2 separate regions of the Homo sapiens genome follow, and region 2 is reported to be linked to region 1. The links are microRNA targets in miRTarBase. Many come from high-throughput screens and were not tested one by one. Region 1 holds a microRNA gene; the other region holds the end of a gene's coding sequence.
What was found. Region 1 holds the annotated microRNA hsa-miR-6861-5p (ACUGGGUAGGUGGGGCUCCAGG, at 1,299-1,320, opposite strand). A microRNA usually pairs through its seed, bases 2 to 8, with sites in the 3' UTR of a target mRNA and lowers its output. Matches are read on the target gene's strand: a 7mer-m8 pairs with bases 2 to 8, a 7mer-A1 pairs with bases 2 to 7 and ends in A, and an 8mer does both.

Region 2: the mRNA of OR2A4 is a reported target of hsa-miR-6861-5p. The part of its 3' UTR that is shown has no 7-base or 8-base seed match.

What each region holds. Positions count from the first base shown.
Region 1 is chr12:112,161,997-112,166,062 of GRCh38, forward strand. It overlaps MIR6861 (microRNA 6861), which reads right to left and starts at 1,325; the gene lies at 1,262-1,325. It overlaps HECTD4 (HECT domain E3 ubiquitin protein ligase 4), which reads right to left. Exons shown (of 76, transcript NM_001388303.1): 73 at 2,113-2,279; 74 at 1,546-1,741; 75 at 1,046-1,268; 76 at 1-527. The coding sequence ends at 391. RefSeq lists an enhancer at 3,952-4,066.
Region 2 is chr6:131,696,828-131,700,893 of GRCh38, reverse strand. OR2A4 (olfactory receptor family 2 subfamily A member 4) reads left to right here. Exons shown (of 1, transcript NM_030908.2): 1 at 1-1,250. The coding sequence ends at 425. All of the region lies in intron 15 of ENPP3 (ectonucleotide pyrophosphatase/phosphodiesterase 3), which reads right to left. Among named protein-coding and RNA genes, the nearest start is that of OR2A4, 2.5 kb to the left of the region's middle. RefSeq lists an enhancer at 1-393.

The DNA of each region.
Region 1 (4,066 bases):
CGAGCGCTCTGTGTGGCCGAGGTCATTGTACCCCCGGCTTCCTGCTGGGTGGTTCTGTGATGGGGAACCAGCTGGGGCCTTATGGCATTAGAATCTGGTGGCCATGAGGGACAATGTCCAAGAAGATCAAATTAGACACAAACTGTCTGGGAACTAAACTATCCTACAAATAGACCACAAACAGGCAGCAAAAGAACCAACCCATCACGAAACGTACAAAGACAAAAGGTTAAGTCTTCCAGGAGGCCCTGGAATGTGGACGAAAGTTTGGAAAAGCAAAATGTTGCCAACTCCTCACGCAGGGCCCTGGAGGGACGGGCCGCAGTGGTGGCTTCCCAAGCCAGCAGAGTGGGTGCCTCAGTGACAGCCTAATTCTGGGGCTCCCTCCCATCAGCCACTGAGGGGGTCTTCACGGTAGTGAATGGCACAACGAAGTTTCTCCAGCATGATTTCCAGAGAGGAGTACTGGGGAAGCTTGATCATGAACATGCAGGTCTCCACGCGGATGTAGCGAGAGTCTGGGGAACCTACAAGAAACCGAGCCAGCATCAGAGGGTTGGGCCCACATCTGTGAGGCTCCCAGGGAAGCTGGGCTGGCCTCTGCTTCCAGGTTTGCCTCCTTGGGTAGCCCCAAGCCAATCCTGGGGCCCAGCAGGAGGGGGATGAGGGCCTGGGAACCTGCGAGATGTTCTTGGAGGGAAAAGGGGAGAGAGCTGCTGGACAGCGCATGTGCCAAACTGCTGATGGGTTTGTCTGCCCAGCAAATTGTTTCTTTTTTTTTTTTTTTAACCATTTTTCTGCATTTAAAAGTTAGAAGATTTGAAGCATTCTGGATTTTCAGCTTCTTTTAAGATATGAGAAAGTATCTAACAGCAGGCCTGTATGGCTGGTTCCTGCCGGGCCCTAATCCTCAATGATGTCTGAGTTTTGGCACGTGGGGCTCCTGTTCATTGTTCTCCCTTCACATGGGGCCTGGCAGCCCCAGTTCCAAACAGAGAAAGGCTAGTGTGTCCCTACTTGGGACATGGCCAGGGGAGGGCGGTACCTGCTGTGCCATCTGGGGGGGCGATCTTCATGGGGTACGGGGGCACATGGGCAGTGTCGGGACCCCCATCTTTGCAGGGGCAGGTGAACGGGATGCGCTCCTGGTTGCAGGCAAACTTGATGAACTTGCACAGCTCCTCCTGGGTGAACATCTCCAGGGCCCCCCAGAAGAACTCGATGTGCTGGTCCGTCTCCATCAGCCCCACTTGGTACATGGTGTGGGCCTGGGGAGGAGAGGTCCAGGTGTCAGGAGCCCTGGAGCCCCACCTACCCAGTGCCTCCCCAGCCCTGGGGTCTGCAGGCCAGGCCCAATCCTGGGGCAGGGTGCAACGTGTGGGCTGTGAGCACAGGGAGATGACAATGATGACAATGATACAGGTCTGTGGCAAGGACAGAGCTGAGACAGGCCACTGCCGATGCCTGCTGCTGGAGTTGAGGGTGACAGGGAGGCACGCCTGGGGCTCACCACCTCCCCGCCCAGCCTGGCCCTGGGATGTCTACCTTGAGGAACTCGAGGTTGATGTAGGGGAGGCCGCAGGTGCGCAGCTCCATCTCCAGTGGGCTGAGCATGGTCAGCAGCTGCAGGGGGATGATGGAGCCCAGGCCGGCCCGCACGGCCGTCACGCACTCCACATTCTGCAGCTCCCGCAGCCGCAGGCTCCGGATGGCTGCCGCGTAGATGTCCTTGTTCTCCCACCTGCCCGGGTGAGGAGCACAGGTGAGGGAGAACACCGCCGAAGAGGCTGGGTCTGGGGGCCACACCCACTCAGCTGGAGGTCCCGGATCCTCTCTTGGGAGAGGCCTGGGGCCCAGCCGCCCTGGTCATCCCAGTCCTTTCCTGCCTCTGGTGCCGCCGCCTCAGAGCTGCTGTTTTCTTAGTAAACCCCTTCTGCTGAGGACCCTCTTTCTTGGCACCCACCATCCTGCCTCATCTCCCTCTCCTGGTGAAATCCACCTGTCACCTGACCTAGGTCCTCGTGTCATTGCCCAGGAACAGATGCTGCTGTCATACCCTGGCTGGCTGGCCGGGCCAGCCCCTGCCAGCCCCTGACACGCGCACACACTCACGCCACAAGGATGTGCCGGCCCCGGCTGCACAGCTCCACCTCCTCGCCCGTCATGGTCAGGTAGGTGAACCTGCAGCAGGGCTTGTTGGGGCTGTCAGGGCTCTCCGTGGCCAGGTGCTGGGAGGCGATCTCAGCGCACAGGGCCTCCAGCTCGGTCTCATCATTGATCTGGAGGGTGGAGGCAGAGCGAGGCTCATTATGAGGCCATGGGAGGTGGAACCCTGATCCCCAGGTGGCTGGGTAAACCCCAAGCGCAGCTGGTGGGGTCTACCCTCGGCCGTGTAGATGAGCATGTGACACAGCTTTCGCCAATCAGAACCTGCCATCAGTTCAGGGCCGGGCGTGTGACCCAGGCCAGGCTAAAGAGACCCACATTCCAGGCCTCTTCCCACGTCTGTTTGGAGGCAGCGATCCTCTCTCACTGGCATGGACCGACTATGATGGGAAACCCTTTACCACTGGAGGCCACCTCTGCCCGTGCGCTGGGAGAGACTGCTTGAGGCTAATTATGCTTGCTTTTTTTTTTTTTTGAGACGGAGTTTTGCTCTTGTTGCCCAGGCTGGAGTGCAATGGCGCAATCTTGGCTCGCTGCAACCCCTCGCCTCCTGGGTGCAAGCAATTATCCTGCCTCAGCCTCCCGAGTAGCTGGGATTACAGGCGCCCACCACCATGCCTGGTCAATTTTTGTATTTTTAGTAGAGACTGGGTTTCACTATGTTGGCCAGGCTGGTCTCTAACTCCTGACCTCAGGTGATCTACCTGCCTCAGCCTTCCAAAGCGCTGGGATTACAGGTGTGAGCCACTGCACCCAGACCGCTTTTTCTTTTTTTTTTTTTTGAGACAGATTCTCGCTCTGTCAGCTGGAGTGCAGTGGCGCAATCTCAGCTCACTGCAACCTCTGCCTCCTGGGTTCAAGCAATTCTCTGCCTCAGGCTCCCGAGTAGCTGGGATTACAGGCACCCGCCACCATGCCTGGCTAATTTTTGTATTTTTAGTAGAGACGGGGTTTCACCACCTTGGCCAGGCTGGTCTTGAACTCCTGACCTCGTGATCTACCCGCCTCAGCCTCCCAAAGTGCTGGGATTACAGCTGAGCCACCGCGCCTGTCCTCTTTCTTTTTTTTTTTTTAAAGCAATCTGGATCAGAGGCCTGAGACCAATACCAGATGATACTGTTTGAACACCTGGATTTGGCCCTGCCTGAAGTCAAACCCATCATGCTTTTTGTTTTAAGAGCAACTAATTTTTTTTTTTTTTTTTTTTGAGATGAAGTCTTGCTCTGTCGCCCAGGCTGGAGTGCAGTGGCGCGATATCAGCTCACTGCAAGCTCCGCCTCTCGAGTTCACACCATTCTCCTGCCTCAGCCTCCCAAGTAGCTGGGACTACAGGCGCCCGCCACCATGCCTGGCTAATTTTTTGTATTTTTAGTAGAGACGGGGTTTCACTGTGTTAGCCAGGATGGTCTCAATCTCCTGACCTCGTGATCTGCCCACCTTGGCCTCCCGAAGTGCTGGGATTACAGGCGTGAGCCACCGCGCCCGGCCTAAGAGCAACTCATTTTAAACAATTTTTTTCTAAAGCTTGTTGGAGTTGGGATTTCTGTCCCTTGCCACCAGACAGCCCTGACTTAGTCCTGTCTGTGGAGGTGTACAGGCTGTCGCCTCCCCACATATGGCGACCAGGATCAGCGTCCAGGGGAAACTGATTCGCACTGTGCTTGCTGGGCTACCAGGGAGACGACAGGGTCGGACCCAAAGGAGACTGACTGCAGCTTGGGGACAGTGACAGGTGGATGGACATTCGGGTCTAAGCCTGGAGTCTCCTTAGTAGCAACCTCCCTACCCCTTCACCGCAGACACTCCACTGATACAAGTCGAGAGCACTTCTTCCTAGTATGCACCCCACAACACCATGTGGTTCTGCATCCCATACCCTCTGGGGCCTTGGCCATCCCTG
Region 2 (4,066 bases), not on the chromosome of region 1:
CCCAGAAAATTTATCACTTTTTTTGTGAAATCTTGGCTGTTCTCAAACTTGCCTGTGCAGATACCCACATCAATGAGAACATGGTCTTGGCCGGAGCAATTTCTGGGCTGGTGGGACCCTTGTCCACAATTGTAGTTTCATATATGTGCATCCTCTGTGCTATCCTTCAGATCCAATCAAGGGAAGTTCAGAGGAAAGCCTTCCGCACCTGCTTCTCCCACCTCTGTGTGATTGGACTCGTTTATGGCACAGCCATTATCATGTATGTTGGACCCAGATATGGGAACCCCAAGGAGCAGAAGAAATATCTCCTGCTGTTTCACAGCCTCTTTAATCCCATGCTCAATCCCCTTATCTGTAGTCTTAGGAACTCAGAAGTGAAGAATACTTTGAAGAGAGTGCTGGGAGTAGAAAGGGCTTTATGAAAAGGATTATGGCATTGTGACTGACAGTGACCTAGGAAGTTACATCATTGAGCGGTTCTTAACCCATCTCTGCACTGGTGGGACCTCTGCCCTCAATGGACATGAGAATTATCTGAGACATTTATTTAAAATGGAGCTATCTCCTGCCCTACCTTTAAATGACTGATTTCAGCAGATGTGGGATGAAATTCTAGAAATTGATCTCTTCAAGTTGTGCTGCAGCCACTCCACACCAGGACAATACCCCTTACAATATCCTCATTAGCTTTTGATCCAGTCCCATACCTCCCATAATGTTTTCCTCAAAACACTGGTCCCTTCAGAGGACTTTAAAAATAAGTTCTATAGTCAAATAAGTTTGAGACTTACTTCACATCAGATGCCTCTGTCTAGGGATCACAATTCATATTAGCATAGTGAATGCTGTAAATATTTCTCTAGGAAAGAATAATTCTATACCAGCTTTAAGCCAGTGTTTTCTAAACTTATGTGAGCACATAAAATTTCCTTTGTAATACTTAGTAACAGTTTCCTGGAACAGGAGATCTTGATATTAATTGACTCATTGTGAATACTTCCTACAGCCCCCTTCTAGGGCAGAATGATTTCTTTTTTCCTTGCAAAGTGAGCCTCTAAAGAGATGTAGTTCTGAGCATTATGCCTCGATCAGTCTGTAAAAATCCGGGTTCTGTTTGGATACAGACCGTGAGGGACCCTGTCTCTACTGTTCAATGGTAGATCATCTAAAGAAAATAAATGCAATCCTGTCCTTCATCATGGATCGGCATTCCTGCTATAGAAGCTTCAGGAGATGACCTCATTCAACCTCACAATCTTCTAAATTTGAGATTTTTAAGAAATATGATTCAGTATACATCTTCCTGTGTTTGCCGCTGAATGAAATCAATCTAATTTTTCTAATTCAGGGTTTTCAAGATAAACCCAGATTTCTCAAGAAAGAAAAATCTAGAAAGATTTCAAAATCCACCACCTACACACTTAAAAGTTGTAGCAGCTTCTTATGCCATGGGAAACATGTCATTTTGAGATGATGTTTTTTCTAGGTTTAAGTTTGGTCTTAAACATTTATATTTAATTTCTCATTGTCTTAGTTCAAAGAATTTACTTTTATATTTTAAAATAACTTTTTACACAATAACTCAGTGTCATATCATGTTAGATATAAAACTATGTCCTAAAACTATTTTATCCTTTTTTTTTTTTTTTTTTTTTGAGACAGTCTTGCTCTATAGCCCAGGCTGGAGTGCAGTGGTGCAATCTCGGCTCACCGCAACCTCTGCCTCCTGGGTTGAAACAATTCTCCTGCCTCAGCCTCCTAAGTAGCTGGGACTACAGGCATGTGCCACCACGCATAGCTAATTTTCAGTAGAGACAGGGTTTGTATTTTTAGTAGAGACAGGGTTTCACCGTGTTGGCCAGGCTGGTCTCAAACTCCTGACCTCAGTTGATTCACCTGCCTCGGCCTCCCAAAGTGCTAGGATTACAGGCATGAGCCATCCTGCCCAGCCTATTTTATACTGCTTATACTATTTATATAGTATAAAAATAGTTTTAAAACTATTTTATGGTATACTTTTTATAAAGTAAAAAGTATACTGTAGTATAATTTTTATACTATATACCATATTATATTTTTATAAAGTTGTTTCCATTTGCTACTAACTTTTTCTTTTGTATGTCAGTTTCCTGATTTCTACATTTCCTGCAGGTCACCTGGAACATCAAAAGAAAAAGAAAAGCTGTAATATTGATGGGTGGCCTACTGTGCAACAAGATTTTCATATAGTGTTTTTGGTGTTATATGGATGTTTCTTCTCGCAGTGGATGTGTAGAGTCAGAGCACAGATGGGCATACTCTCAAACCTTAATAACTGTGCCACATTGCCCTTTGAGTTTATTCTAAACCTTAGCAAGTCAGAGATCACACTGTATGGAACTAACTTCTATCTAAATTGCATGATTGATTGATAGGAGATTTCCAAATAACATTTGGACTGCCTTACATCCAGTAAAAGAACTCAGCAAAATACAAATAAATATGATAATATCTTAGACAGCAAATCTTCTCATCCCACAAGAGGCAGGAAACTGCTAGAGGAAGCTGCCTTGGAGAGGATTCTTTCCTCCCCTCCCGAAAGGAGCTGAACTCAAAATCTCTCCATTTCACAATAGACATTGGAGAACATTTTCAACAGTGGATTTGCACCGGTGTTTTGTGTCCTAGAAAAACGTTCCCTTCAGGTAGGTTCTAATAAGCCCCTTGAACAATTTCCCAAATTGATCATCCTGCCTTCAGAACTTCTGAATCTTCCCTTCAAAACACATACACACGCACACACACACACCCACACACATACCCCTAATCTTATTTAACACTGCTGGAAATAAAAATCTATGTTCTAATGAGAACAAACATCAGACAGAATATGATAAAAGCAAGACTATCCTAGAAACTGTGGCTTCTAAGTTAACCATAATACCTTCCCGGTGATGCACTATATAGTTTCACCATCCCCATGGCTTCATGGGCTCCCTTGGGGCTGAATGGGTCACTACATACCTTTCTAACAGGCTTCCCTGTTTCACACTAGACTAGGGGTCCCCAACCCCTGGGCCATGGACCCACACCTGTCTGTGGCCTGTTAGGAACCAGGCCACACAACAGGAGGTGAGTGGTGGGTCAGTAAGCATTACCACCTGAGCTCCGCCTCCTGTCAGATCAGCAGTGGCATTAGATTCTCATAGGAGGGTGAATCCTATTGTGAACTGCCCATGCAAGGAATATAAGTTGTATGCTCCTTACGAAAATCTAACGCCTGATGACCAATCACTGTCTCCCATCGCCCCCAGATAGGACCATCTAGTTGCAGGAAAACAAGCTCAGGGCTCCCACTGATTCTACAGTATAACGAGTTGTATAATTATTTCATTATCTATTACAGTGTAATAATAACTGAAATAAAGTGCACAATAAACGTCATGCGCTTGAATCATTCTGAAACCACCCCCCCTTCCCGCCCCCACCCTGGAAAAACTGTCTTCTATGAAACCGGTCCCTGGTGCCAAAAGGGTTGGGGACCACTGCGCTAGACCATCCTCGTCCATGTAGCATCTTGAAGGACCTCTCCAAAAGCAAATATCCCTATATTCACCTCAAGCCACCTGTATCTACCAACAGCCTACTTTCTTCAAGATCAAAGTCACACTCCTTAGTCATTTCAGACAAGGTCCTTTGTACACATGATGGCTTCATACACTCAGTGCTCCAGCAATGCAGAACTACTTGCAACTGCAGGAATCTAGTTCTTCCATCTGGAAACCTGCCTCCTTCTCTTTACCCTTCCTTGCCCTAGAGCTACTGCTGGCTTTAAAAAGGTGCTCAGGCCGGCACGGTGGCTCACGCCTGTAATCCCGGCACTGGGAGACCAAGGAGGGCGGATCATGAGGTCAGGAGATTGAGACCATCCTGGCTAACATGGTGAAACCTCGTCTCTACTAGAAATACAAAAAATTAGCTGGGTGTGGTGGTGGGTGCCTGTAGTCCCAGCTACTCAGGAGGCTGAGGCAGGAGAATGGCATGAACCTGGGAGGCGGAGCTTGCAATGAGCCGAGATCGCGCC